Linked DNA regions of Homo sapiens: all the other regions are linked to region 1. The links come from fine-mapping of genetic effects on gene expression. A gene starts in region 1. Each other region holds a variant in brackets. All regions are shown on one strand. Distances are between the middles of the regions.

Region 1 (5,000 bases):
CCACAACAGCTGCAAATCCTTACAGCCATGTCTACCAGGTCAGCCTGCACTGGGACCTGCCTGAATCAAAAGTTTGCTGCCTGAATTTGTGCATTACAATTCAGCTGGAATTCACAGATATTAAATGTTCTTTGTTGGGATTAGGAAAGGGACAATGTGCTTGCCATGTGTTATGGAACAACTGAGGACACAAACATGACCATGGTTTCCCTTCCTGAAAGAAGTAAAACATTTATTATTTTTGGATTGGTCTACATTGTAATAAAAGTTGATATGTAACAAAACATATCTACATAGTGATTTTTTTTTATTGTCAATTGTCAAAGTTTACTACCACACTAACAGAACAATGACTTTTAACATACGGGTATATCCATAGATTAGGTCTCATTAAAGCTGTTACTAAATGGGGTCTAGGGATGGGGTCTAAGGAATACAGCTTTAGGAACAAATGTGGAAATGGGGATAGATTTATTTATTCCACTCATTAATTCATTCAATATAGTTTTTTGTTGGGAGCAGACAAGGTCTCTCGCTTTGTCACCTAGGATGTGGTGCAGTGGATTCGACATCTGGGCTTAACAGATTCTCCCATCTCAGCCTCCTGAGTAGCGGGGATTACAGGCATGCGCCACCACGCCCGGCTAATTTTTGTATTTTTTTGTACAGACAGGGTCTCCCAGGTTGCCCAGGCTAGTCTCGAACTCCTGGGCTCAATCAAGCGATCCGTCCACCTTGGCCTCCCAAAGTGCTGGGATTACAATCAATATACATTTAGTACCTATTATTTATGGGCTAATCATGTGCTAATGGACTGGTGGAATCACTCTATTCCCTTTGCTCTAGATTGAAGCTTCGAGACCACCTGGGAAAATAGACAACTAATGTAATGAATATCCATAACCAGTTTCAGAGACAACCAGTAGTTTGCAAGTTATTCCACCCATTAAACGATTCCAAATGTTGGAGAAAAGGCCCCCAACTTAAAATACTCCACGGAAACGTGCTCTATACATCTATGTGGTGCTTACAATAAAAGATGAATTCCTGCGACTGAGTTGCAACCCCGAAAGAAATGATTTAGAGAAAAAAAGAAAGAAAGAAAAAGGTAAGTATGTCACCGTGCTTTTGGAAAATGCTTTTGGGATTTGTCCAAGTTCTAGAGTGGAACCCAAGGCTCCTGGGCCAGGGGACAGAAGTGATAACTAAGTAGGATGCAATTTAGTTGGAATCTTCCCTGACCTTAATCCCATAAACAGTTGCCTAGGTAAAGGCAAAGTCTACAGGCCCTAAAACAGGGTACAAGCTTTCCCTAAAACATATTAGAGAGAGGCACTTTCAACAGGACCTTGTTGCAGGATCCCTAAAAAAAAAATTCAAAACAAGGAGATTTACATGTTATTCACCTTATCATAATTTCAGAAATATTTTACTAATAAAAAAGGAGTCGTGAAGTCTGGAACACCTTAAGACGTGACGTCTGCAACACCTTAAGAACAATGATTACAAATGTATTAATATTCTCTCTGATTTTAAGGGAAAAGTGATGAAGGAACAGGAAGATGGGTGGGCGTATGTTCCCAGAAATCCCCAGAACGTCAAAAAGGAAGCGGAGGCTTTGAGTGGAGGACTACGGAGAGCGTCTACGGTTGTGCCAAAGGAAAAAAAATGTTCCTAAGAAAAGAGTATACAAAGTTGTGTTCATCAAAGTCTGGAACCCAAAGGTGTCCCTCCAAAGCTGTACACGACAGAGAAAACGCGAACTGAAAGAAGAAGCAGGTCCCAAGGGGCCAGGCGCCTCCTCCACCTCCTCCTCCTCCTAGGTACGTAGGGCAGAACTAAGGCTGACCCAGACGTAACTCAGCCCTCTCCTCACGCCAGCCGCAGCCAAGCATCCCACGGAGCCTCCCCCCGCGCCCGTCGCCGTGGCGACCGCCGGGGCCACGCAGCACCGCCCCTTCCTCGCGACGTGGCCCCGCCCTCTGAGAACCCGGAAGCGGGAGTCTCGCGCCAGCTGAGCGGCGGTCGGGCGGGGGGAGCGCGGCGGCCCAAGCTCGCTCGGCCACGCGCCCCGCCCCCTCAGAGGCCGGCCTCCCGCACGCACCGCGCAGCCTGCTGTGCCCGTGGGTCCCGAGTGCTCCGCCGCCCGCCCCGACCCGGGCCCAGCCGCCTCCACGGCCCGCGCTCGTACTGGAGCGAAGAGCGGCCTCCTGAAGGAGGGGAAGGGACGTGGGGGCGGCCACGGCAGGTGAGGGTGGGCGAAGCCCTGGGAAGCGGCTGGGTGTGCGGTATGCGGGGTTGTAGGTGTGTGTGTGTGGCGCGTGGCTGCCTTGGTTGGTGTGACTTTGTGAGTGTGTTCTGAGTGGGCCGGTCCATGTGACCACGCACGTGATCACGTGCCCTTGTGAGTGTGTGTCTGGGGCCGAATCTGGGCTGTGGGGTGGTCGGTGTGCTTGTGACCCTGCCTTTGTGTGGCTGTCACCGGTGGGACTGGCGGGGAGCTGTGTGTGAGTCTCCAGCGGGAGGTGGGGGCGGCACAGGGCTTAACCGGGGCATCCTCCTGTAAACCCATCCTGGGGCTACACGACTGCAGCCCAGGAACATTTCTTTCTTTCTTTCTTTCTTTTTTTTTTTCTCAGCAAACTTTTAAGAACTGTGAGCAGAGGCCAGTAATTTTGGAGACAGGACCTCGGCCTGAAAGTGATAGATGTCTTTGTTGTTACTGAGTGTGGGCCAGGTGTAAGGTTTGTAAACGGGGGATGAGGAACAGAGCGGGACCGGAGTGTCTCATTTTTCCTCTTCTCGTTTTCCTGGGGAGTTATAAGTTAGACATTTATGCTGCTTCCTTTGTCTCCACCTACACTGGTTCAGCTCCTTTTGGCACAAAGATTCAACAAATTAAGGAGTAACTTTTTTTTTTTTTTTTTTTTTGAGACGGAGTCTCGCTCCGTCGCCCAGGCTGGAGTGCAGTGGCGCCATCCCAGCTCACTGCAAGCTCTGTCTGCTGGGTTTACGCCATTCTCCTGCCTCAGCCTCCCGAGTAGCTGGCACTACAGGCTCCCGCCACCACGCCCGGCTAATTTTTTGTATTTTTAGTAGAGACGGGGTTTCACCGTGTTAGCCAGGATGGCCTCGATCTCCTGACCTCGTGATCCGCCCGCCTCGGCCTCCCAAAGGGCTGAGATTACAGGCGTGAGCCATCGCGGCTGGCCACTGAGGAGTAACTTAATAGCTGTGTCCAAATTCCAAAAGCTTTTTTCCCAAGAGCATGAGAAGAGATGTCACAGATGTCAGGTAGGCACCTTTTCCTCCTGTAAGGTTTAGAGATAATGCAATGAAGAAAAGAGGGATAGATCTCCCCTGAAGAGATCTAAGAAAAGGATAGCTGTGTACTTCTGTGGTGAGGGATGGAGACGTGCATTAAAAAGCCAGTTGCATCTCCCAGAGACTCTCAGCTTCTAATATTTTGTTATGGCTAGTATTTATAAGCACAGATTTTCCACAATGCACATCAACTATAGATTGAAATAAAGTAGCAGAAACCTCTGACTAATTATGCTGGTTATGTGACTTAAACATTGATAAAGGTGATTTTGTTGACTTTAAAGTGGCAGGTTCTGTTGAAGCCATGAGGGATAGGGGCATAGTCACAACTGGCAGGTTTTTTTGTTTGTTTGTTTGTTTGTTTTTTGAGACAGAGTCTCACTCTGTCGCCCAGGCTGGAGTGCAGTGGTGTGATCTCAGCTCACTGCAACCTCCGCCACCCAGGTTCAAGCAATTCTCCTGCCTCAGCCTCCTAAGTAGCTGGGATTACAGGAGCCCATCACCGCGCCCAGCTAATTTGTTTTTGTTGTTGTTGCTGTTTTGTTTGTTTTTTTGAGATGGAGTTTCGCTCTCGTTGCCCAGGCTGGAGTGCAATGGCGTGATCTCGGCTCACCGCAACCTCTGCCTCCCGGGTTCAAGTGATTCTTCTGCCTCAGCTTCCTGCGTAGCTGGGATTACAGGCATGTGCCACCACGCCTAGCTAATTTTGTATTTTTAGTAGAGACGGGGCTGCACCATGTTGGCCAGGCTGGTCTCGAACTCCTGACCTCAGGTGATCCACCTGCCTCAGCCTCCCAAAGTGCTGGGATTATAGGCGTGAGCCACTGCACCCAGCCACAACTGGCAGTTTTTATTGTCCAGCAGCACAAGGGCCAGAGAAGACAGGGAGTCCACAGCACACCCTGAAGAGGGCTTTCCTTAGGCAAGATTAAGGCTAATATTGTGGCTCTTTTCCCACCAGCATGAACAGGTGCTTTTGTTTTTGTGAAGAACAAAATCATGAGAGATAAAATCAGTTTTGAGCTCATGGTCCACATTCTTTCTTATTCAGTACTGACCAGTTTGGTCACAATCTCAGTTAACCTTTGCCATATACAGAATATTCCTCTTATGATTTGGAAAAGTATACCCCTTTGGTGGATGAAAGAGAGCTAGGAGAACAAACTTTCCTATTCATACCACTCACAGCTGTTTTCCCTTTGCAGCAGTGATCTTTTTTTCACTTAGACGTCAGTTGGTCAGATGCAACATTTGGTATCCATTTTACCTTTCATGTACTGCCAAACTAGCACAAGTGTTAAAATTACTTGTCTCTACAAAAATTTAGTCACAGCGGAGTGGAATCTCTCCATCTTGTAAGATTACTTTTAACACGTTGGCATCCTGAGGTGGTTGTGAATTATTCTGAAGACTGTTGGTAAGGAACATCTTTCTATTTACTGCTATGGGAAAGAAGAGGATGACCGCGTGAATATGTGTGCCTGTGTATGTGTGTATTTGTATGGTGGTTTGGTTTGTGCATTGCAACTGATTTCAAAGCTATGAATGATTTATCCCATTTGGTGACTCTAGAAGCACACTTTCTGGCTTTAGTTAGCTAAGGTGTTTTATAAATCTATTGAGTAGATGTTATTTGCTAAACATGTTTTTATTTTCCCTCCTTTAGAATAGATTGT
Region 2 (7,654 bases), 32 kb after region 1:
TTATCATTCCTTCTGCATTTATTAACTGGAAATTACCGATTTAAAAAAACAAAAACTTGCCCTCATCGACTGCTTGGTTTCGCTGAGATACAATTTAGACAGAAAAATAAGCATCAGTGCTTCTTTCCCTTTATGTGCCAGGTTTCAGAATATTGGGTTGGCCATACCTTCTTAGACTTCATCCCCAATACAGCCCTGATTATCCTGACTTTACAGGTGAGGACCTGGAGACTGGGTCAGGCAGTAAGGGGTGGAGCTGGGATGCCACCTTGAATCTGACCATCCCTAAAGCCAGTGATCTTTCCACAAAGGGGCCACATTGTCTTCTCTATCTGTGGCTTGACAACAGTCATGAGTTATGGAAACACTTGGTAAACCATAAGGGCGAAGCTTGACATTTTAACTAGTAGCGTCTGAGGCTACTAGAGCCGTCTAACAACTTTAACTACTCCCCAGCTCTGCCCCCTGATGACTGCAAGTTGTCATTGCCAGCCCTGATCAATTTTGAGTACTGGCCTTGAATGCGTACTCAGGCCTATTAGGCCAGCCTTCAACAGGCATCTCAGCCTTCGACAGGCAACCAGTCAAAAGCTATGCCCATGGCCCCACTGCCCAAACCTGCCCTTCCTCTTCTAGCCCCATTTTCTTAGGTCCTGGCATCACTATTTCTTGGAATCCCCAGTTAGAAACTCAGCCATCTTGGACCCTCCACCCCCACTCACTCCTCCACCCCCATGTCTCAGGCTGAAGCGGATGCAGAGATGAAAATTTGGGTGCAAGATGTTTATTAAGGATCAACATCTGTGGCCTGGTGTGGTGGCTCACACCTGTAATCCCAGTACTTTGGGAGGCCAAGGGGAGTGGATCACCTGAGGTCAGGAGTTCAAGACCAGCCAGGCCAACATGGAGAAACCCAGTCTCTACTAAAAATACAAAAAAATTAGCCAGACCTGGCGGCACGTGCCTGTAATCCCAGCTACTCAGGAGGCTGAAGCAGGACAATCACTTGAACCAGAGTGGCAGAGGTTACGGTGAGCTGAGATGGTGTCACTGCACTCCAGCCTGAGCAACAGAGTGAGACTCAATCTCCAAAACAAAACAAAAAAACAACATCTGTGAAGGGAAGATGGATTGGGCAGAGAGCGAAATTGAACTGTGATGCAGGCCCGATCAAGTACCCACCAACTCAGTAGGGCACGCAGGAGCTTGAAGCACCCACTGGAATATTTTCATGGAGGACTAAAATGGCTGGGTCTCTATGCTCCCGCGTAGCTCAGTTCCCAGAGGCAGCTGCCCTGGGGAGGGCAGGGTGTTGGGTGGGGCAACTCTCTGCAGCTGAGGCAGACCCTGAAGGGCTGACAGCTGGAGGCCATCTGCCCAGCTCACTCCTGCAGCTGGATGGAAAGGCCTTCCTGGAAGAAGGGGGTCCGGGCAATGCATTTCCACATCTACTACACCTATATCCCCTGACTCTCAGAGATCTAGCAACTTGCCTGCAAACTTGAGCCTTCCTCACTACAAGTTAGGCCTTGGCATCTTTTGCCCAGACTACTACAGTCCTCACTGGCTCCACCAGCCATCTCCTCCCACCCCCACCCATCCTCTGTGTGGTCCACACACAGGTCTGATCTTGTCACTTGCCAGTGCATGAACACTAAGGGACCTCTGTTGTGGAAATCAGACTAGTTTCAGAAACTCTGAAGTGGGGCTGTAACCATTTAGTGAAGCTCTGCACACAGGAAGAGATGCGGGGAGCAACCTCCACTAAGAGCCAGGGACTCCTTCACCTCAGTTCTTAACCTGGGAGTTTTATGGGTTCATTTTGATACATGATGTGATCCAGGGCCTGTACCCGCTTCTAGAAGTTATCTTGGGATCCACAGGAGAAAGACTTCGCACTTTTTAAGTATATAAACCTGCAGACTATATGTGAATAGTTTTAAGTACAGTATATATCTTAAAAAGGGGCCAGGCACAGTGGCTCACGCCTGCAATCCCAGCACTTTGGAAGGCCAACCCAGGCAGATCACGAGGTCAGGAGATCAAGACCATCCTGGCCAACATGTTGAAACCCCATCGCTACTAAAAATACAAAAAAAAATTAGCTGGGCGTGGTGGCATGTGCCTGTAATTCCATCTACTTGGGAGGCTGAAGAGGAGAATCGCTTGAACCAGGGAGTCGGAGGCTGCAGTAAGCCGAGATCGCACCACTGCACGCCAGCCTGGCAACAGAGGAAGACTCCGTCTCAAAGAAAAGGGAGGGAGTAACTGTAAGTAAATATCCATTGGAAAAGTGATTTAAATATACATTTTAGAAACAAGGAGAGTCACAATTAGCAAGGTAAAGTAGACTCTGAAAGGACAAGCAGATGTGCATTTCCAAAGGCGGAGTCTATTCTGTTCAGTTTCTACTTTATGAGACATCTAATTTTTGGTGATGGGGTGGGGAACAATTTCCAATGCATCTGCACCCCTCCCCCTCCTGCCCCTCAGGTCACAGCTCCCCCTCCTTCCACGCATCCTGTGCTCCAGCCACGCTACTCCCCAAGGTGGGGGGTCCCTCTCCACACCTCTGGGCTATTGCTTAGGCTGTGCTGTTGGCTTGGACTGCCCTTTTCCCCACTTCTGTCTCCTCTGTGAGCTGCTTCCTCCCCTTCCTTTCTTCCTTCCCCCAGGAAGGAGTCCCATAGTTGTTTGCACCCATCCATTACAGCGTGGACTGCACCTTATTACAGTTATTGGTGTGCAAGCCTTTCTCCCCTACTAGACCCTAAGCTTGGGGAAGGGGAGGGAACTGTGGGCTCTCATCTCTGTACCCACTCCTGGCAGGCCACCTGGCACAAAATCCACTCAGGAAGTATTCACTGTCCGTGAGTTGAGCCATTGTGCTTACATAGCACCAATCTGTGACAGCTTGTCTGACCTGGAATTTCACCCTGTATTTCCCAAAGAAAAGATATGAGTACTGGATTTGAGAGATATATTTCAACATTTCAATTTTATTGTATTTAAGAACTTTTTTTTCTCAGAAAAAAATTACAAAATTCATTTTATAAAATTCATCCAGATAAATGATTTCAGTCCCATATGGTACAAAATACCTTTCCCAAGGAATAGATGATTTAATTTAAAGCCTCTGTTTTCTTTTCCTTTTATAACTTTACTTTTGTTTTTTTTCACAGACTTTCTATTTTAGAACAGTTTTAGGTTTAGAGAAAAATTGAGCAGATAGCACAGAGAGCTCCCACGTACTCTTCAGCACACACAGTTTCCCCGATTATTAACATCTGGCATCAGTGTGGTACATTTGATACAACTGATGAACCAATATTGACACGTTACTATTAACTAAAGTCCATAGCTCACATTAGAGCAAACGCTTTGTGCTGTACATGCTATGGGTTTTGACCAATGCCCAATGTCATGTACCCACCATCACAGTGTCATACAGAACCTTTCACTGCCCTAACATCCCCTGCGCTCCACCTCCTCATCCCTCCCTTCCTCTCACTGCCCTTGCAGCTCCTGGAAATCACTGATCTTTTTACTGTCTTTGTAGTTTTGCCTGTTCCAGCATGTCATATCCTTTCAGTTTTCAGTAAGTAACACTCTCACACATTTCAAAAGTTAAAACTGTATAGAAAGGAACCACTGAGAACTCTTTCTCCCACCCGGTCCCAGCCCCACTGTTCCCCATTATCCTACTACCCCAGGGAAACCACCTGATTAGTTTCTTAGCCTTTGTCTAGCTTTTATTTATGCAAATATGTTTTCTAATTTCCTTTCTTTCTTACACAATTAACAGCATACTATTAGTAATATACTATATGCACTGATCTGTATCGTGTTTTTTTAATTATAATTATTCTTTTAATAAAATGCTTCACTGAGAGCAGGGAAGCCACCTTACTTTCCCAAAAGTTACACAATACATGGTAGTACCAAAGAAATATCTGCTGAGAGAAATACTATTTTGGGAAGTAGTTAATAATTTTACAATATGCAATAGAAGCAGACACATGAACAGCTACAATGTGGATACAAGTTTTGTCAAATAATCAGGAGAAAAAAGAATAAAAATTACAATGGCAAATGGCTGTCCAAATTTTCCAAGTCCAACTTTATAGTGCTGTGAAGAAAAGCATGAATATGAGACTCTCAATAAACATTTGTGCATCCATGAAATTGAATTATTTAGGTTTAAAGATAGAATTTTGGAAAACTGAAAATAATTTTTGTAATTTCAAGGTAAAATAATCTTTACTTTCAGAAAACACATTGTAACTGTGATAAGCCATAGCATTTATTCATGTGTATAAGATAAAAACACAGAAAGTATTCTACTCTTATTATTTAAGGTGGAAAAAGGAATAATTGTGAAATTATGTTTCAATTTTCCAGCCTGGCCATCATGGCCAAACCCCATCTCTACTAAAAATACAAAAATTAGCCAGCTGTGATGGCATGCACCTGTAATCCCAGCTACTCGGGAGGCTGAGGCACAAGAATCATTTGAACCCGGGAGGCGGAGGTTGCCGTGAGCTGAGATCTCGCCATTGTACTCCAGCCTGGGTGAGAGAGCAAGACTGTCTCAAAAAACAAAACAAAACAATTATCACCCTTAAAGTGTAGCTCAGAAAGATTTAGAGTAAGAGCATACATTTAGCTCGCAACATATATGTTAGGAAACAAAAGAATGCTGATTAAATATAACTTAGTGGTAGGTAAAGTTGTCTATTTTTTCCCTATCATATATCATAACGTAATAGATCACAAATATGTTTTAGAATTTTTCTTAAGTTTTAAGAATCCAAAAATGGCTGGGCTCCGTGGCTCATGCCTGTAGTCCCAGCACTTTGGGAGGCTGAGGTGGATGGGTCACCTTAGGTCAGGAGTTCAAGACCAGCCTCACCAACATGGTGAAACCTGTCTACTAAAAATACAAAAATTAGCCGGGCATGATGGTGTGTGCTTGTAATCCCAGCTACTCCGGAGACTGAGGCAGGAGAATTGCTTGAACCCAAGAGACGGAGGTTGCAGTGAGCCAAGATCACACCACTGCATTCCAGACAGGGCAACAAGCGTGAAACTCTGTCTCTTTTTTTGTTTGTTT[GTTTT/T]GAGACAGAGTCTTGCTCTGTCGCCCAGGCTGGAGTGCAGTGGCACAGTCTCGGCTCACTGCAAGCTCTGTCTCCCGGGTTCATGCCATTCTCCTACCTCAGCCTCCCAGGTAGCTGCGACTGACTACAGGTGCCCGCCACCATGCCTGGCTAATTTTTTGTATTTTTAGTAGAGACAGGGTTTCACTGTGTTAGCCAGGATGGTCTCGATCTCCTGACCTCGTGATCTGCCCGCCTTGCCCTCCCAAAGTGCTGGGATTACAGGCATGAGCCACTGCGCCCGGCCAAGCTAAACTGTTTCAAAAAAAAAGAAAAAAAAAAGGAATCCAAAGAAAAAAATACATCACCTGCAAAAGGTGAAGAGAGAAAGGAAGCTTTTTCTCTAAAAATGGTGCAGCTATCCTCTGAACCAATTTCCTTCGGTTTAATGTACCTGTATCTTGGGGTTTTTTTCCACTTAATTTATCCTGGAGCTCTTTCCATAACAACACTTGGAAAGCACTCTCATCCTTTTTTCACTGCTGAACAGAATTCCACTGTGTGGATGGAACATACTCTATTTCACCAGTCCCCTGTAGCCAGTCACTTGGTTTGTTTCCAATCTTTTGCTTTTTCAGAGTAATAACCTTGTATGTCTATCATTTTGTATGCATACAGGTTTATATGTAGGAAAAATTCCTAGAGTAGGATTGCTGGACCAATGGATAAAAGTATATTGTGGACAGACAATGCCAAATTGCCTTTCAGAGACTGTGGCCCTGTGCACCCCATCAGGCATGTGTGACTACCAAAGCTCCTGTCAGCTGTTTTATTTTATCTCCTTTCCAGTCTCAGGCTCAATGCAGAACTTTGAGGTAAGCTTTTCTAAAATGTAGGCTCCTAAACGCCACAGCCAGCTCTGCCACATGAAGGAGAGCTCAAATGAGACAGAAACAGCCTCTGGGCAGGATTTCTATCCTGCACAGATATATTTTCCACATTCTGGGAAACCGTGAAGCTTCCAGAGCCACAATTCCCCAGAAACACATCCCCCTGCTGGTACAGCCAAGCCCCAGAACAAGCTGTGCTTGCCTGGCACCTCAAAGCCAAGCACCATGGATGCCACTTGCTATGGGTGCCTGCAATTTCAAATAATGAGAAATAAGAAATTTCAGCTTCTCAGTCCCTCTAGCCAACATTTCAGGTGCATGACAGCCTCAGGTGGCAAGCAGCTACTCTGCCGGACAGGGCAGAAGATGGAACACCCCATCCCTGGGGAAGATCACGAGGTCAGGAGATCAAGACCATCCTGGCTAACACAGTGAAACCCCGTCTCTACTGAAAATACAAAACATTAGCTGGGTGTGGTGGCAGGCACCTGTAGTCCCAGCTACTCAGGAGGCTGAGGCAGGAGAATGGCGTGAACCTGGGAGGTGGAGGTTGCAGTGAGCCAAGATTGCGCCACTGCACTCCAGCCTGGCAACAGAGTAAGACTCCATATCAAAAAAAAGAGAAAAGAAGAAGAAAGAAAGAAAGAAGAAGAAGAGGAAGAAGAAGAAGTGGAAGAAGAAGGAAAGAGGAAGAGGAGAAGCAGGAGAAGAACAAGGAGAAGAAGAAGGAGAGAGAAGAAGAGACAAGAAGAAGGAGAAGAAGGAGAGAGAAGAGACAAGAGAAGAAGGAAGAAGGAGGAGGAGAAGGAAGAAGAAAAGGAGAAGAAAGAAGAAGAAGGAAGAAGAAAGAACAACAAAAAGAAGGAGAAGAACAAGGAAGAAGAACAACTAAGGAGAAGGAAGAAGGAGAAGAAGAAAGAAGAACAAAAAGAAAGAAGAAGGAGAAGGAAGAAGAAGGAGGAGGAGAAGGAGAAGAAGAAGGAGAAGAACAAGGAGAAGGAGAGAAGAAGAAGAGACAAGAAGAAAGAAGGAGAAGAAGAAGGAAGAAGAAAAGGAAGAAGAAAAGAGGAAGGAGGAGGAAGAAGGAGAAGAAGGAAGAATAAGGAAGAAGGAGAACAAGGAGAAGGAAGAAGAAAAGAAGAAGGAGAAGGAGGAAGAAGGAGAAGAAAGAGGAGAAGAAGGAAGAAGAAGGAGAAGGAAGAAGAAAAAGAGGAAGAAGGAGAAGAGGGAAGAAGAAGAAGGAGAAGACGACGAACGAAGGAGGAGAGGAGGAAGAAGAGGAAGGAAGAAGAAAGAAGAAGAAAAGAAAAGGAAGAAGAAGGAGAAGAAGAGAAGAAGGAGAGGAGGAAGAAGAAGGAAGAACTAAGAAGGAAGAGAAGGAGAAGAAAAGGAGAACTAAGAAGGAAGAAGAAAGGAAAAGAAGGAGAAGAAGAAAGAACTAAGAAGACGAAGGAGAGGAAGAAGAAGAAGAAGAAAAGAATAAGGAACAAGAAAGAAGGAGAAGAAGAAGAAAAGAAAGAAGAAAGAATAATAAGGAACAAGAAGAAAGAGGAAGAAGAAAGGAGAAAAGAAAGGAAGAAGAAAAGAGGGAGGAGAAAGAAGAAGAAAAGAGGAAGAAGAAAGAAGAAGGAGAAAAGAAGAAGAGGAAGAAGAAAGAAAAGAAGAGGA
Region 3 (8,373 bases), 90 kb before region 1:
CTGAAATCTGAGAGCCTTTCTCTGTACCTTTCCTATGGAGTTTCCTTGATTGACTGATCAATTCATTAATGCATTCTTTCAACAAACATCCGTTGAGTGCCATTCATTCATTCAACAAATATTTCTTAAGTCCCTACTAAATAAATCATCTCTTAAGCTGCCTACTACGTTCTAGTCATTTTTCTGGGTCCTGATGAGAGAGCAGTGAACAAAACAGAAAAAACCCTCTGCCTTCGTGGAGCTCAAATTTTAGTAGGAGAAAACCAACAGCAAACAAGTGAAAAGATAGCATGGAAGATGATGCTAAAAGCTATGCAGAAAAATAAAACAGGAAAAGGGAGGAGAACATGTAGAGAAGGGGGAGGTAGATTTTAAGTAGGGAGGTTAGGAGAGTCTGTAGGATCGAAGTGACATCTGAGCCAAGACCTGCAGGAAGTGGGGTGGGGCTGAGGCAGTGCGCAGGCAGAGGGACACCAGCCACACACCCTGAGCCCGGAGTGTGCCTGGTGCGTCTGAGGAGCAATGAGGCCAGAGAGGAGTGGGAGGAGATGAAGTCAGGGAGGAAACAGGGTGGGAGAGTCTGAAAGGACTTTGCCTTTCAGAGGGGGCGCACCAGGCTCTGACTGGCATTTTGTTGAACTAGGATGGCTCTGGCTGCCCTGTGAGCACACTGAAGGGAAGCCAGCAAGGAAGCAGGTCCTTGGTGGACAGGGGTGGGGCAGCTTCTCTGCCTCTGCCAGGCGGGCTATATAAACCACATAGGATGATTTCAGGGAGAGGAAGGCTTGGGGTGCAGGACATCTGGAGTCAGGGGCAAGGAGAACGTTTGTGGAAGACTGGAGAGAACTCCAGAGAGTTGGGCTGCAGGGCTGCCACCAGGTTCAGGAAAATGATCCCTGCAGCTTTAAGCTGTGTGAGTGTAGGCCTCTCAGAAAGGACGGACTTCTCAGAGTAAACCTCTGGGCTGGGACAGAGAGATTTCAAATCCAGCCCTCTGAGCTCAGTAACTCCTAAGTGTTTCTGTAATTTGCCCAGCTGCACCTGGTTTGTGCCCCCCACACCTTCATGCAATAGTCAAGCCGAGATGCCGGGGAATGAGAGGCTGAGAATCCCAAGTCCTGAGTTCAAGTCCCTGCTCTTCCACTTAACTGCCTGTGTGACTCTGGGTGAGCCAGCCATTCTGGCTTTCTGCTGGTTTCCTCACAGGCACCCCAGGCACAGTCACCATCCCTGCTGAGGGTGGTGGGCAGTGGTGACACATGCTGACTGTGGGTGGAACAAAGCCTTAACTGTGAGAACCCTTAGACAGAGAAGGTGGGCTGGGTTACAAAGCTTCCCCACACTTCCTGAGACGAGGGAAGTATCAGTGAACGTGCAAATATCCCCCAGGGCCTAAACCAGTCATTACCTGGGCTGAACGGGGCTACTGGTCTCCCAGGTCTATCCTAAGGGAAGAGAACTAGTTAACTTTCCTATGGAAGAGGGAAGAGAAAGGGCTGAGTCCAAGGGAACAAACGAACCCCCAAAAGAGGTGGGGATACATAGAGAAAGGCAAAACGGAGGGAGTGTTAAGGAGACCATTGGAAACACCCTGTCCATCTCAGGATGTCGGCCAAGCAGGCATGTAGCACAGAAGACAAGCCTGTGGCCCTGGGTTCACAGCCAGGTTCTGCCACTACCTAACGAGCCTCTTCTAATCACATGACCGTTGAGCTTTTTTCCCTCCATTAAGCTGCGGGAGTAGGGGTGTTGCCAAACTATCTGCCACTTAAAATTCTCAAAAGCTCAAGTAAGTCAACTGTGGGAAAGCTCTCTGTGAACACTGTGTTATTATTACGCACAAAAGGCATCTCAGAAAGGGCTGCCCTGGATGAAGGGAGGAACAACCAAATGCCAGGAGCCAGCAGGCTGGGGCTAAGCAGCCCCAAGTGCAGACAATGCTGTGGGATAAGAGAGACTAGGAGCTGATGGATTATCATGTGGCAAGTCTCAGGTGTTCAGCACTGGTCAGGAGGAAGGAGGAAAATGCTCTGTACTGTTATGAAAGTTATCTGTAACTTGGAAGTAAGGCAAAAGAAGGATTATTTCCTTTCAATGTCACTTTGGGACACTTTGAACAGAGAAGAGTTATTTAATTTTCAAGGGGAATGTACCTTTGCCTTACAATTTACTATAGATTAGAGCCCAGACTTTGTGAAGTTACATGCTAACTTGTAGGCATATGCACAAATATGTACATGCATGTATGTAAAGATGCAAAGGATTTTTGTTCAGTAGAGAACCAAAAAAATTATGCTTTTGTCCTGTAAGGCATATGCCAGTTTTGTCTCTAACTTAGCAAACTTATTTTAGTATGTCTCTTCCAACTAAATATACAAATCTGTCTCTCAAATGCTCTTTTCAATCAGCTTTGCCATTCTTTTTGGTTCTCTTACAGGTGAGTTAAATAAATCTTTGATGTGTGATATGAATTACACTTTGAGGCCAGGTACAGTGGCTCATGCCTGTAATCCCAGAACTTTCGGAAGCCAAGCAGGAGGATTGCTTGAGCCCAGGAGTTCAAGGCCAACCTGGGCAACACAGTGAGACTCCACCTCTACAAAAAAATTGTATAAAAATTGGCCGGGCGTGGTGGCTCACACCTGTAATCCCAGCACTTTGGGAGGCCGAGGTGGGCGGATCACCTGAGGTCAGGAGTTCAAGACCACCCTGACCCACATGGAGAAACCCCATCTCTACTAAAAATACAAAATTAGCCAGGCTTGGTGGCGCATGCCTATAATCCCAGCTACTTGGGAAGGCTGAGGCAGGAGAATCACTTGAACCTGGGAGGTGGAGGTTGGGGTGAGCTGAGATCACACCATTGCACCCCAGCCTGGGCAACTACAGCAAAACTCTGTCTCAAAAAAAAAATTATAAAAATTAGCTAGGTGTGGTGGTGTGCACCTGTAGTCCCAGCTACTGGGGAGGCTAAGGTAGGAGGATCACCTGAGCCCAGGAGGTTAAGGCTGCAGTAAGCCATGATTTTACCACTGTACTCCAGACTGACAAAGCAAGACCCTGTGTCAAAAAGAAAAAAAAAAAAGAATGAATGAATTACACTTTGATAGAACTACAAGTGAGGAACTCTTGTTGCTATGCTGTGTGGCTTTGGGCCAGTGGGTCAGTTTCTGCCACAAGAAGAGGGTACCCAACTCCCAGGCCCAAGGTAGGTCGGGAGGGGGAAGTCAGATGTGAAAGTACCTTGCACATAATTCACAAGATGCAAAAGTCAGGGTTTATTGTTGAGACTTATCAGACTAGGCTACTCCAGGGCTGGAAGGTCCCAGGCTTCTGAGGGCAGCATTCTCCAGGGTTGGGACATAGGCCAGGAGAAGAGGCAGCTAGGTGCAGCCCTGGCGCGAGCCTCCATGCCCCGGAGGTGTCATGCTGACACTGCATTCTCCACTTCTGACGAGGCCAAGATTCCCCATGGGCCTCAGGTCCTGGGGGATGGAGACCAATGAGAACCACCCAGAGAAGTCTTCCCAAGGCCATGGAGAGGCTGGAAAGGGCTGGGACAGGCATCTGCCCAGAAGCCAGAGCTGGGGATTTTGATGAAGGAACGAGAGTCCTCATCCAACAACAGAGGTCAGCACTAGGTTCCTAACTAGTGGCCTCTGTAGCCTGGGTTCTTTCAAGGCATCATCATTTTAATCTGGGACAGGGAAGTCCCCCAGCTCACTTAACAGGATCTCTGCCCTTACAATCCACACACGTGGTTGTGCACACACAATGATGTTACAGCCAGGGGTCCAATGAGCAATGCAGGCAGCCCAGGTCAGGAAAACGAAGAGCTGGGTGAGCCAATGCTGCACAGAGGATGGTAGAGCACTGACAGGGAGAGAGGAGGAGACTAGGCATTCCAGCCCAGGGAATTGCAAAGGGCAGAATAGGACAGGAAGAGAACAAACCTGTAGAATGTGGAGGAGGGGCTACAACTGAGGAAGATGAGGCAGGATTTGGCTCATACCTCAACTGACCTGAAGTCATGTGGGTTAACAGTCCACTGCCCCGTGGTGATGGCAAAAACAGGGTGGGCAAGGGCTTACACCTGGGTGCTCCCCTAAGGGTTCCAAAAAGGAACGTGAAGAATCCTCTCGCCCCCACAGGTCTCACTCCAGGCTCAGCTCAGTCATTATCTGCTGCAAGCTGGCCCAGTCTCATCCCCTCTCTAGATGCCCCAACTACTGCTGCTCTGCTGGTATGGCTGGACTTGCAGAGACCCTCCCCATCTGCTCCAGCCTTCCCCAACCCTGCTTCTCTTCTGAGCTCTCAGCCTCCATGGTCTAAGCCTCCCCTTTCAGCAGCTAATGGTATCCTGCTCATCTCCTCCATAGAGTTTGCACACTCTCTTCTTTTCTGGAGTTATATATTTTTTCTCTTCCTATTTTCCCTTTGCCCTGATTTCTTCAGCACTTTATT[TTATTA/A]TATTGTATGCGGTTTTAAATTTTTTTGCATGTTGCCTTCAACTCTGTGGATCAAGTTGTGTGTAAACCTTTTTGTTGTCCTGTAACTGTTAAGATTGTTTTCTGGGTTATCCTTTAAGCTTCCTGGATCCCTGTGTGGCAACTACGGCTCTCATTACGCATAACACTGTATTGGGCATACAGTAGGTGCCTAATTCTTGCCTACTACTTGCAGTTTGATTAACATCATTTAAGTCGCTCCCAGCGATGCTCAATCACTAGCCCATTACATATAAGCCCGGATTATTCAAATCCCAACTCCCCCTACCCTGTTCACTGACATTGTGACCCACCAGCTCTCAGCAGAGCCCAAGTAATTTGAGGGCATCATCACTGCTCCCTGAGCTTCTTGAACATGTCCACACCACCAGAAGGCACCAAACCTGGGTGTCTCAGTAGAAAGAGGGAAGTTGCCAGCTACTTCTAAGGCCGGCCTCACACACTCAGCCATAGCTCAGGGAGGAGTCGCGGCGTCTCCTCCCTCCTAAAGCCAGCCCAGAGGTCACAGTTCTGCCGTTGTCGAAGTCACAGGCCCAGGAGCGCCAGGAGGCAGCCTTAGGAGAAAGGTCTGCAAGGAGCCGGGCCGCGGGAAGCCGGCTTTCTCCCTGAGCAGCCGCCAGGTGCCGCCCTCGATGGCGTAGAGCAGCGTGAACATGCGGTTGACCGTATAGACGGTGTCACCGCGCACCACGGCCGTGAAGAGCGCTCCCTTGCTGTTGACGAACTGGCCGGGCAGCGCCGTCCACTGGCCCGTGGCCAGGTTGAGACAGTCGATGGCGCAGTGCAGGAAGTCGTCGGAAGGTCCGTTGCGCACCACATAGAGGCTGTCGCGGTGGGCCACCATGCAGTGGCCATAGCTCTGCGGACGCCGCAGCTCGGCCACTGGCAGCCACGCGTCGGTCCGCACTGCGTACTCCACCACGGCGGTGGTGTCGGCCGGCCGCCACAGGCACACGAAGAGACGGCCACAAGCCTGGGCGCAGGGCACGCCGGCGGCCGGCTGCGGCAGGTCGGCCACGAAACTCCAGCAGCCCGCGGCTGGGTCGTAGCGCTCCACGGAGCTGATGGGCGTCCTCTGGAATTCGCCGCCGATGGCGTAGAGGCGGCCGTCGAAGCCGGCCAGCGCTGTGTCATAGCGCGGCTGGTGCGGGCTGGGGAACTCGTGCCACGTGCCGCCGTCGGGGTCGTAGCAGAAGCCCAGCTCTACCACCTCCTTGCTGGCGCCGCGCACGCCCCCCACGATGTAAAGCTTGTTGCCCAGCGTGGCCACCCCGGCCAGCAACGTGCTGGCCTCCAGGGGCAGCGCAGCCAGCGTGCGCCACGCGTCCTCTTCCTCGTCCAGGTAACACAGCGTGCGCGAGGCGTCCTCCAGGAAGCCGGGCGCGGGCGTGTGCGTGCTCACGGCCGCGTAGCTGCTGGGCCGCAGGGCCGCCACGTAGGCGCGGGCCTCAGGCAGCGCCAGTTCGGCCGCCAGCTCGCGCTCGCCGTCGCAGATGAAGAGCGCGGCACTGTGGAACACGTCGCGCAGGCCGAAGGCGGCGGCCGCGTCGCACAGCAATGCGCAGTTGTCCGACGTGAGGTTGTGCTCCAGAAAGCGAGCCAGCGCCGGCGCCTGGAGGAAGGCGGCGCACTCCACGGCCTGCAGCAGCTCGTCCTCCGCCGCCAGCGCCGGCCGGTCGCCGCGCAGCACCTGCAGCGTGGCGCGGAAACCTCCCGCGCTCAGAACGCCCAGGCGCACCTCTGCTGCGCGGGTCTCCCGCATGCCGGAGCGGAAGAGGCCTCGGAAGAAGCCACAGTGCTCCACCAGCAGGGCGCGGTCGGCTTGGAAGAGCTGGCCGCCCACCCACACCTGCACCAGGGTCTGTGGACCCCGTGCCATGGCGAGCTGGCCGGGCGGAGGCTGCCGCTGGGGCCTTGGGTTAGCCAGCCACCAACTCTGGGGCTCCCCTGGAGCAAAAAACTTCCCTGGGGGCTATAAATATCTCTCCCTGGCTAAAGATAGTATGGCTCATGTGATGTGGTGGCCCGCAGGCTGTATGGCTGCAGGCCCGGAGGGCATCTGGAGACCTGTGTGATCACTCATATCCTTAGAAGAAATGGTAATAATGGGTCCAGAATTGGTGGGTTCTTGGTCTGACTTCAAGAATGAAGCCGCGGACCCTCGAGGTGAGTGTTACAGCTCTTAAGGTAGCGTGTCTGGAGTCTGTCCTTTCTGATGTTCAGATGTGTTTGGAGTTTCTTCCTTCTGGTGGGTTCATGGTCTCGCTGGCTCAGGAGTGAAGCTGCAGACCTTCGCTGTGAGTGTTACAGCTCTTAAGGCAGCGTGTCTGGAGTTGTTCGTTCCTCCCAGTGGGCTTGTGGTCTCGCTGGCCTCAGGAGTGAAGCTGCAGACTTTCACGGTGAGTGTTACAGCTCATAAAAGCAGTGTGGACCCAAAAGAGTGAGCAGCAGCAAGATTTATTGCAAAGAGGAAAAGAATAAAGCGTCCACAGTGTGGAAGGGGATATGAGCGGGTTGCCACTGCTGGCTCGGGTAGCCTGCGTTTATTCTCTTATCTGGCCCCACTCACATCCTGCTGATTGGTAGAGCCAAGTGGCCTGTTTTGACAGGGCGCTGATTGGTGGGTTTACAATCCCTGAGCTAGATACAAAAGTTCTCCACGTCCCCATCAGATTAGTTAGATACAGAGTTTCCACATACAGGTTCTCCAAGGCCCCACCAGAGCAGCTAGATACAGAGTGTCGACTGGTGCACTCACAAACCTTGAACTAAACTCAGGGTGCTGATTGGTGTGTTTACAAACCTTGAGCTAGATACAGAGTGCCGATTGGTGTATTTACAATCCCTGAGCTAGACATAAAGGTTTTCCAAGGCCCCACCAGAGCAGCTAGATACAGAGTGTTGATTGGTGCACTCACAAACCCTGAGCTAGACACAGGGTGCTGATTGGTGTGTTTACAAACCTTGAGCTAGATACAGAGTGCCAATTGGTGTATTTACAATCCCTGAGCTAGACATAAAGGTTCTCCAGGGCCCCACCAGAGCAGCTAGATACAGAGTGTCAATTGGTGCACTCACAAACCCTGAGCTAGACACAGGGTGCTGATTAGTGTGTTTACAAACCTTGAGCTAGATACAGAGTGCCGATTGGTGTATTCACAATCCCTGAGCTAGACATAAAGACTCTCCACGTCCCCACCAGACTCAGGAGCCCAGCTGGCTTCACCTAGTGGATCCTGCACCAGGGCTGCAGGTGGAGTTGCCTGCCAGTCCTGCACCATGCGCTCGCATTCCTCAGCCCTTGGGTGGTTGATGGGACTGGGCACCGTGGAGCAGGGGGTAGTGCTCGTCGGGGAGGCTCGGGCCGCACAGGAGCCCATGGAGTGGATGGGAGGCTCAGGCATGGCGGGCTGCAGGTCCTGAGCCCTGCCCTGCGGGAAGGCAGCTAAGGCCCGGTGAGAAATCAAGCACAGCGCCGGTGGGCTGGCATTGCTGGGGGACCCAGTACACCCTCCGCAGCCACTGGCCCGGGTGCAAAGTCCCTCATTGCCCGGGGCCAGCAGGGCTGGCTGACTGCTCCGAGTGCGGGGCCCGCCAAGCCCACGCCCACCTGGAACTCCAGCTGGCCCGCAAGCGCCACACGCAGCCCCGGTTCCCGCTCGCGCCTCTCCCTCCACACCTCCCTGCAAGCTGAGGGAGTGGGCTCCAGCCTTGGCCAGCCCAGAAAGGGGCTCCCACAGTGCAGTGGTGGGCTGAAGGGCTCCACAAGTGCCGCCAAAGTGGGAGCCCAGGCAGAGGAGGTGCCGAGAGCAAGCGAGGGCTCTGAGGACTGCCAGCATGCTGTCACCTCTCAATAATAGTGACC
Region 4 (8,373 bases), 20 kb after region 1:
GGCTTTTCCCAATTCTTCATCACATTCTACAGTAAATCTTTGTACAAATTACTGGGTTTTTTCCCTTTCCAATTTATTTCCTTGAGATATGTTCTCCAAATGGAAAGAATAGAGCATTTGGTCTGTCAACAGATGTTCTGCACATCATGACCCTTGATATTAGTCTGTTCTTCCAAAAGATAGAAATGGTGGAAATGAGGCTGGGTGCGGTGGCTCACACCTGTAATCCCAGCACTTTGGGAGGCCGAGGCGGCCGGATCACCTGAGGTCGGGAGTTCGAGACCAGCCTGACCAACGTGGAGAAACCCTGTCTACTAAAAATACAAAATTAGCTGGGCAAGGTGGCACATGCCTATAATCCCAGCTACTCAGGAGGCTGAGGCAGGAGAATCACTTGAACCCAGGATGCGGAGGTTGTGGTGAGCCGAGATCACGCCATTGCACTCCAGCCTAGGCAACAGGAGCGAAACTCCATCTCAAAAAAAAAACAAACCAAAAACAAAATGGTGGAAATGCTTTGGGTGCAGCCAGTGGGGTACTTGTTTCCTAGGAGCCATCCTTTCATTGATTTTATCATTTTAAGTAATTGGTAGGTATCTATGATGCCATACAGCTGGCTTACTGTGCACTTCTTTCATTGCTGGCAAGGCGAGGCTCTAGCCTTAAAATAAAGCCCAGTGGCCAGGTGTGATGGCTCATGCCGTACTCCCAACACTTTGGGAGGCCAAGACAGGAGGATCACTTCAGGCCAAGAGTTTGAAACCAGCCTGAGCAACATAGTGAGACCCCATCTCTACAAATAACAATAATAATAAATTAGCCAGGTATCATGGTATGCACCTGCAGTCCTAGCTACTCAGGAGGCTGAGGCAGGAGGATCGCTTGAGCCCAAGAGTTCAAGGCTGCAGTGAGCCACAACTGTGCCTCTGTACTCCAGGCTGGGTGACAGAGCAAGACCCTACTTCAAAAAAAAAGCCCAGTGAGTAAACACATCTGTATGATCAGTGTTTTCAAATAATGTATAGGGAAATATCGTTTTCACATCTACTTAAAATTGCACTCTGATATTTTTTAGTTTTTTTTGTTGTTGTTTGTTTTTTTGTTTGTTTGTTTTTGAGATGGAGTCTCGCTCTGTCGCCCAGGCTGGAGTGCAGTGGCACGATCTCAGCTCACTGCAAGCTCTGCCTCCCAGGTTCACGCCATTCTCCTGCCTCAGCCTCCCGAATAGCTGGGACTACAGGCGCCCGCCACCATGCCTGGCTAATTTTTTATGTTTTTAGTAGAGACGGGGTTTCACCGTGTTCACCAGTATGGTCTCGATCTCCTGACCTCGTGATCCGCCCGCCTCAGCCTCCCAAAGTGCTGGGATTACAGGCATGAGCCACTGTGCCCAGCTATTTTTTAGTTTTTCTGATGTTATCTTAGTAATTACTCAGCATTCATGCAACAATTTCTTGTATACATTAGCTACTTTACAAATCCTTCCCGTCCAGATAATGCACTAAATAATGCTCATTATTTTTGGTGATTTTTATTGCTGTTCTAATTGTTAGAATGCCAAGACAGCCCCCATTCAGTTTGTGCTCTGGCACATCAGCTGCTTATTGTCAAATATCTGAGTGCTTACTGTGTGCCACACACTGAGGATCCAGGAGTGAGCAAAGTCAACAGGGTCCACCCCTTACAGAGCGTACTTAGACCTCATCACCTTCAAAAGATAAGAAAGTGATGGGGCTGGGAGAGAACTTAGAAAGTTAACTGGAAGGTGACCTAGTGGTCCTTTTGAGGGAAGCTCAACTTCCAGCAAGGCTGTCCCAGTGGTAATAAGCATCAGAAGGTAGTTTGCACCTCATCTAAGTAATTTTCGTCATAGGTTTACAGAAATTAGTGTTTGCCCTCCATGATGGCTCTTAACAGTTGAAATTAATGGAATAAATATAAACTAAAGATCATATATAGAAATCCGTAAAGATCTGACCAGTCACAGTGGCTCACACCTGTAATCCCAGCACTTTGGGAGGCAGAGGTAAGAGCATTGCTTGAGTCCAGGAGTTCTAGACCAGCCTGGGCAACAGAGCAAGATCCTGTCTCTACAGAAAAAAAATTTTCTTTTTTGAGATGGGAGTCTCGCTCTGTTGCCCAGGCTGGAGTGCAGTGGCACGTTCTCACTGCAGCCTCTGCCCCCCAGGTTCAAGTGATTCTCCTGCCTCAGCCTCCCAAGTAGCTGGGATTACAGGCGCTGGCCACCGCCCCTGGCTAATTTTTGTATTTTTAGTAGAGACGGGGTTTCACCATCTTGGCCAGGCTGGTCTTGAACTCCTGACCTTGTGATCACCCACCTTGGCCTCCCAAAGTTCTGGATTACAGGCATGAGCCATTGCGCCTGGCTCAGTAAATTTTTTTTTTTGGAGACGGAGTCTGGCTCTGTCGCCCAGGCTGGAGTGCCATGGCACGATCTTGGCTCACTGCAAGCTCCATCTCCTGGGTTCACGCCATTCTCCTGCCTCAGCCTCCCGAGTAGCTGGGACTACAGGCGCCCGCCACCAAGCCCGGCTAATTTTTAGTATTTTTAGTGGAGACGGGGTTTCACCGTGTTAGCCAGGATGGTCTCAATCTCCTGACCTCGTGATCTGCCCACCTTGGCCTCCCAAAGTGCTGGGATTACAGGCATGAGCCACCGTGCCTGGCCCCGGCTCCCCCAGCTCAGTAAATTTTTAAAAAATTAGTCAGGCCTGGTGGTACGAGCCCGTAGTCCCAGCTACTCGGGAGGCCAAGGTAGAAGGATCACTTGATAGGAGTTTGAGGCTACAGTGAGCTATGATCACAATACTGCACTTCAGCCTGGGCAACAGAGTGAGACCCTGTCTCTAAAAGTTTTTTTTTAAATTTTTTAATTAAAAAATAAAAAGAGGCCAGGAGTGGCTCACGCCTGTGATCCCAGCACTGTGGGAGGCTGAGGTGGGTGGATCACTTGAGGCCAGGAGTTCACCACCAGTCTGGCCAACATTGCAAAAGCTCATCTTTACTAAAAATACAGAAGTTAGCCGGGCGTGGTGGCATGTGCCTGTAGTCGCAGCTACTCGAAAGGCTGAGGCATGAGAATTGCTTGAGCCCGGGAGGCAGAGGTTGCACCCAGCCGAGATCATGCCACTGTACTTCCAGCATGGGTAACTGACTGAGACTCTGTCTCAAAAAATAATAACAATAATAAATTTAAAAAATAAATCTATAAATATCAATTTGCCTTGAATTAGCCAAGTTGAATCTAATAGTAGCAAATTTGGGGAGGTGCAATAGCTTTCATATTGGTATTTTGAAATCTGTTTTGAAATATCAATCGATAAAAACATAATATCAACCAGAAGGAAAGAATACTTCTCTTAATATTCAGTTTTCCAAAAGAAATAGTTTAATCCTTGGAAATAGGGCCAATTAGAGAAAAAAAACAATCTTGGACTCATCAGAATGTCTATCTCAGTAAAGGTATTTTGAAATATCTCTTATAATTATCCTAAATCCTCAAATAAAAGTTTAATTATATGAAGCCATAACTCTTTGGAAGCTTGGGAAAGTGTGTGTAAAAACTAGATGCTGAGCTCTTTGGAGGAGGGGATTAGGACTTTTTATTTCTAGATCCCAAGCTAATACAAAGCTTTAATGTTGAATGAATATTTGCCATGTGTAGTCTTGGAAGTTTAAATTATAAGGTCTTTGTGTTTTACAGCTTTTGGCTGATGCCTGCATTTATGCTCAAAAAAATAGTTCTTGGAAATTTTTCATCTGGCCCGGTGGACCCTATGATGGCTGATGCCATTGATTTCATGGTAGACAGGGTAAGGATCATGACATTGGGTTGGGGACACATTGTATTGGGAATTTTCACATCTACTTGGTTCCAGAAGATAGATCTGTCTCACAAGTATGTGTAAGAGGTATTTGCTAAGCAGAGTAATACATCTGAGCAGATATTATTGCTGGTAAGGGCTTGCCTACATCAGTGCTTCCCACCAGCTATTCATCAAAATCACTTAGGGGAGCTTTCAAAAATACAGATTGTAAGGCCTCACAGCAGATCATCCATCTGGAATCCCTGGGCATGGGATCTGGGAATCTATTTTTACTTCACACTTTTCCTCTACCCACCAGGTAAATCTGATGAACCAGGTCTGTTGGCTTGCATTTAGGAACTGCTGGGCTAGATGATTTCTCAAATCTCTTTTAAGATCCCTTAAAGGTTTATCTTAAAAAAAAAAAAAAAACAAAAACATATATCTGTCACCTTTGAGCAGTAGGAATTGGCTTGCTGCCCATGGGCACCTGGCTGGAGTAGGCAGTGTAGGCTGAGGGCTGTAGAAGGCCGGGTTTCATTGGTTTGTACCCAGGTTTCCAGAATAGAAAAATGCCACAACCTCCTGAGAAGCCCAGTTCATGGTCTCTCACCTAAGTTGTGGTTCCTCACTGATGACTTTTCTGGCCCCACCACAGATGATACCACCTTTATAAGCACAAATGTTGTCTGTGGATTTAATGTAAATGTGAAAAACAAAATTATTTCAAAAACTTTACCTGTGTTTCTTCCTGCAGCTAGAAAGTTTGGGTCAGAGTGAACTGGCTTCAAGACTTACCTTGAATTGTCAAAATTCTTATGTGGAACCTCATAAAATTCGGGACATACCTGTAACTATTATGGATGTAAGCTTCCTTTTAAGTAAAATAGCTGCTTTACTTTTTAAAATGTGTATGTCAAGATCTCCTATAAAACTATTTGATAACTTTCAATGT[A/G]CCTCTTCAAATGCTGCCTTGGCTTTTGTTTTTACCCTCCAGCTTTCTCAATTCCAAAATAATCTGTTTATTGCTTATCTTGGATTTCTTTCTGGCAGGAATAACACCATTGAAATCAAAATAGGCCGAGCACAGTGGCTTATGCCTGTAATCCCAGCGCTTTGGGAGGCTGAGGCAGGAGGATTGCTTGAGTCCAAGAGTTCAGGACCAGCCTGGGCAACATAGTGAGACCCTGTCTGTATTTATTAAAAAAAAATAAAAATAAAAATGAATCAAAATAAATTTAAACAAGGGAGTCTACCCATTTGATGTATTTTTGCTGTTCTCATCAATAGATATTGCACCATATATTGCACATATATGGGCAGCAAAGAGAAGGTGCTTCACAAGGGTAACAAGGGTAGAGAATCAAGAATTCCATAGTTTAATTACCACAAAAGCTTGCTTATTTTTTTATTGTGGTAAAATGTACATTTAAAATATGCCATTTTAACCATTTTTAAGTGCATAGTTCAGTGGCATTAAGTATATTCACAGTTCGGCAACCATCACCATTTTCACAACATTTTCATCATTCCAAGAAGAAATTGCATACCCATTAAACAATAACTCCTGTTCCCTTTCTTCCCCCGGCCTCTGATAATCAACGGTTTTATTTTCTGTCTATAAAAATTTACCTATTCTAGAACCTCATATAAGTAGAATCATACAACATTTATCCTTTTGTGTGGCCATTTCACTTAGCATAATGTTTCACAAGACTTATCTTGAAATGTTATACATGTGTCAGAATGTCATTTCTTTCTTTTTTTTTTTTTTTTTTTGGAAACAGGGTCTCACTCTGTTCCCCAGGCTGGAGTGCAGTGGTGCAATCTCAGCTCACTGCAACCTCTGCCTCCCGGGCCCAAACAATCCTCCCTCCTCAGCCTCCTTAGTAGCTTGGACCACAGGCTCACACCACTACGTTCGGCTAATTTTTTGTAGAGATGGGGTTTCACCATGTTGCCCATGCTGGACTCAAACTCTGGGACTCAAGCTGTCTGCCTGCCTGGGCCTCCCAAAGTGCTATGACAGGCATGAGCCACCACGCCCAGCCTATTTCTTTTTAAAGCTGAATAATATCTACCAATAAAACCAATGTTGGTTTATACCACATTTTGTTTATCCATTCATCCGTCAGTGGTCACTTGGGTTGTGTTCAGCTTTTGGCAATTGTGAATAGTGCTTCTATGAACATTGGTGTAAAAGTATATGTTTGGGCAGGGCACAGTGGCTCATTCCTGCAATCCCAGCACTTTGGGAGGCTGACTCAAGAGGATTGCTTGAGCCCAGGAATTCGAGACCAGTCTGGGCAATACAGGAGACCCTGTCTCTACTACTAATAAAGAAAATTAGGCCGGGCGCGGTGGCTCACCCCTGTAATCCCAGAACTTTGGGAGGCCAAGGCGGGTGGATCATGAGGTCAAGAGATCGAGACCATCCTGGCCAACGTGGTGAAACCCGTCTCTACTGAAAATACAAAAATTAGCCGGGCATGGTGGCACACACCTGTAGTCCCAGCTATTCGGGAGGCTGAGGCAGGAGAATTGCTTGAATCTGGGCGGTGGAGGTTGCAGTGAGCTGAGATCGCACCACTGCATTCCAGCCTGCCAATAGAGTGAGACTTCGTCTCAAAAAAAAGAAAAAAAAAAAAAGGAAAATTAGCTGGACATGGTGCCACATCCCTGTGATCCCAGCTACTTGGGAGGTTGAGGTGGGAGGATCACCTGAGCCTGGGGTGAGCCATGATCATGCCACTGCGTTCCAGCCTGGGCAACAGAGTGAGAACCTGTCAAAAAATATATGTATATTTGTTTGAGTTCCTGCTTTTAATTTTTTTTTATTTATTTTTAAATTATTTTTTAAAAATAATTTTTTGTTTTTTATTTTTATGGGTACATAGTAGATGTATCCTACTTTTAATTCTTTTGGACATATCGTTTGAAGTAGAATCACACTTTTTGAAGTACCACCATACTGTCTTCCACAGTGGCTATACCATTTCATGTTCCCACCAACAATGCACAAAGATTCCAGTTTCTCTATATCCTGGACCCTTATTTCTGGTTTTTTGGTTGATACTTATCCTAATGGATATGAATTGGTATCTCACTATGGTTTCAATTTACTTAAAAAAAAATCATATGATTATTTTGCCTTATAAATGGATTTGTTCCTAAATTCAAATAATATGGTTTTTTGTTTTTGTTTTTGTTTTTGTTTTTTTGAGACAAAGTCTCACTCAGTTGCCTAGGCTGGAGTGCAGTGGCGCGATCTTGGCTCACTGCAAGCTCCGCCTCCTGGGTTGACGCCATTCTCCTGCCTCAGCCTCCCAAGTAGCTGGGACTACAGGCACCCACCACCACGCCCAGCTAATTTTTTGTATTTTTAGTAGAGGCAGGGTTTCACCATGTTAGCCAGGATGGTCTCGATCTCCTGACCTCATGATCTGCCCGCCTCAGCCTCCCAAAGTGCTGGGATTACAGGTGTGAGCCACCGCACCTGGCCATAATATGGTATTTTTAATAATTGGTTTTTGTTGGGAAATTATTCATTATAAGCGTGTAAACAACTTCTTATCATCCTCTGCCATAATCGCTGCATTCTGACATTTGCCATAACATAGAACAAGCTTTTCAATGGTCCTCACAGGACATTTGCTCTGCCTGCCCTTCTTTCAAAGCTGTGCTCACTGCCTGGGTTCATGGTCACTGAAAACAGCCTGTAAGTTTTAGTTGGAGATGCACTTAAACATACAGATTTGGTATGGTATATTTAGTATACAATTTTTTTTGCTTATTTTACTTTTTGAAAAATTTTGTTGCATGTAAAAACGTAAATGTGTATGGGTATTGAAGGATGTCTAGAATCATATGCTGCAAACTGGTTTCCCCAAGAAAGAATAGCTTGTACTCTACATTTTTTTGGAATTTTTTTCACTGAGCCTAAATGACTTAGTTTATTGCTTTAAATTAATGATAAAAGTAAAAAGTTCTTTTGGGGCTTCGTGATCTTTTTGAAACTTATTGACATTTGCAATGATTGTTCTCTATTAATATTCTGTTAATCTACTTAGCTATATTTGAGGAAAAAGGAAATTCATGGTAGAATTTCCCCCGACCCCAGCCGGGCTTGGTGGCTCACGCCTGTAATCCCAGCACTTTGGGAGGCCGAGGTGGGCAGATCACCTGAGGTCAGGAGTTTGAGACCAGCCTGGCCAACATGGTGAAACCCCATCTCTACTAAAAATGCAAAAATTAGCCAGGCGTGATGGCGCATGCCTGTAGTCCCAGGTACTTAGGAGGCTGAGGCAGGAGAATCACTTGAGCCCAGGAGGTGGAGATTGCAGTGAGCCGAGATCACACCACTGCACTCTACCTCAAAAAAAAAAAAAGAATTTCCCCCCACCAAAAGAATGCAGGAGATGCTGTGCAGCAAAATCTGTAGCTAATGTCTTCGGTTGGAGTTATAAGTCACCAGGGATCAGCAGTGGAGGTAGTTCAGGCTGCTGGGGGTTCAGGATTGTCTTCATATGAAAGGAATACTTAGGGT

Alleles and levels. Alleles are on the strand shown, and positions count from the first base shown. SD is a standard deviation of normalised expression in the study named. Not every link is listed here.
In carriers of allele T in region 2, the expression in monocytes of the gene that starts at base 1,999 in region 1 tends to be higher than with GTTTT alone (large effect, 1.0 SD a copy in BLUEPRINT).

What was found. PIP is the estimated chance that this variant, and not a neighbour inherited with it, causes the effect. A credible set is the group of variants that fine-mapping cannot tell apart.
Region 2: its variant is the best candidate, but not a certain one, in a credible set for the expression of SPG21 in monocytes (BLUEPRINT, PIP 0.85).
Region 3: its variant is the best candidate, but not a certain one, in a credible set for the expression of SPG21 in whole blood (INTERVAL, PIP 0.68).
Region 4: its variant is the best candidate, but not a certain one, in a credible set for the expression of SPG21 in sun-exposed skin (GTEx, PIP 0.62).

Annotation. Positions count from the first base shown.
Region 1 is chr15:64,986,913-64,991,912 of GRCh38, reverse strand. It overlaps SPG21 (SPG21 abhydrolase domain containing, maspardin), which reads left to right and starts at 1,999. Exons shown (of 9, transcript NM_016630.7): 1 at 1,999-2,248. RefSeq lists enhancers at 1,566-1,625, 1,666-1,735, 1,791-2,290, 2,291-2,792 and silencers at 1,806-2,295, 2,416-2,465, 2,268-2,562.
Region 2 is chr15:64,954,017-64,961,670 of GRCh38, reverse strand. It overlaps ANKDD1A (ankyrin repeat and death domain containing 1A), which reads right to left. Exons shown (of 15, transcript NM_182703.6): 15 at 2,980-4,568. The coding sequence ends at 4,483. Among named protein-coding and RNA genes, the nearest start is that of SPG21, 32 kb to the left of the region's middle. The variant GTTTT/T (reference allele first, on the strand shown) is at 5,114.
Region 3 is chr15:65,074,830-65,083,202 of GRCh38, reverse strand. It overlaps KBTBD13 (kelch repeat and BTB domain containing 13), which reads right to left and starts at 6,457. Exons shown (of 1, transcript NM_001101362.3): 1 at 3,255-6,457. The coding sequence starts at 6,387. The coding sequence ends at 5,011. It also overlaps a transcript of RASL12 not described here. The variant TTATTA/A (reference allele first, on the strand shown) is at 4,465.
Region 4 is chr15:64,965,574-64,973,946 of GRCh38, reverse strand. SPG21 (SPG21 abhydrolase domain containing, maspardin) reads left to right here. Exons shown (of 9, transcript NM_016630.7): 6 at 3,725-3,833; 7 at 4,585-4,692. Among named protein-coding and RNA genes, the nearest start is that of SPG21, 20 kb to the left of the region's middle. The variant A/G (reference allele first, on the strand shown) is at 4,783.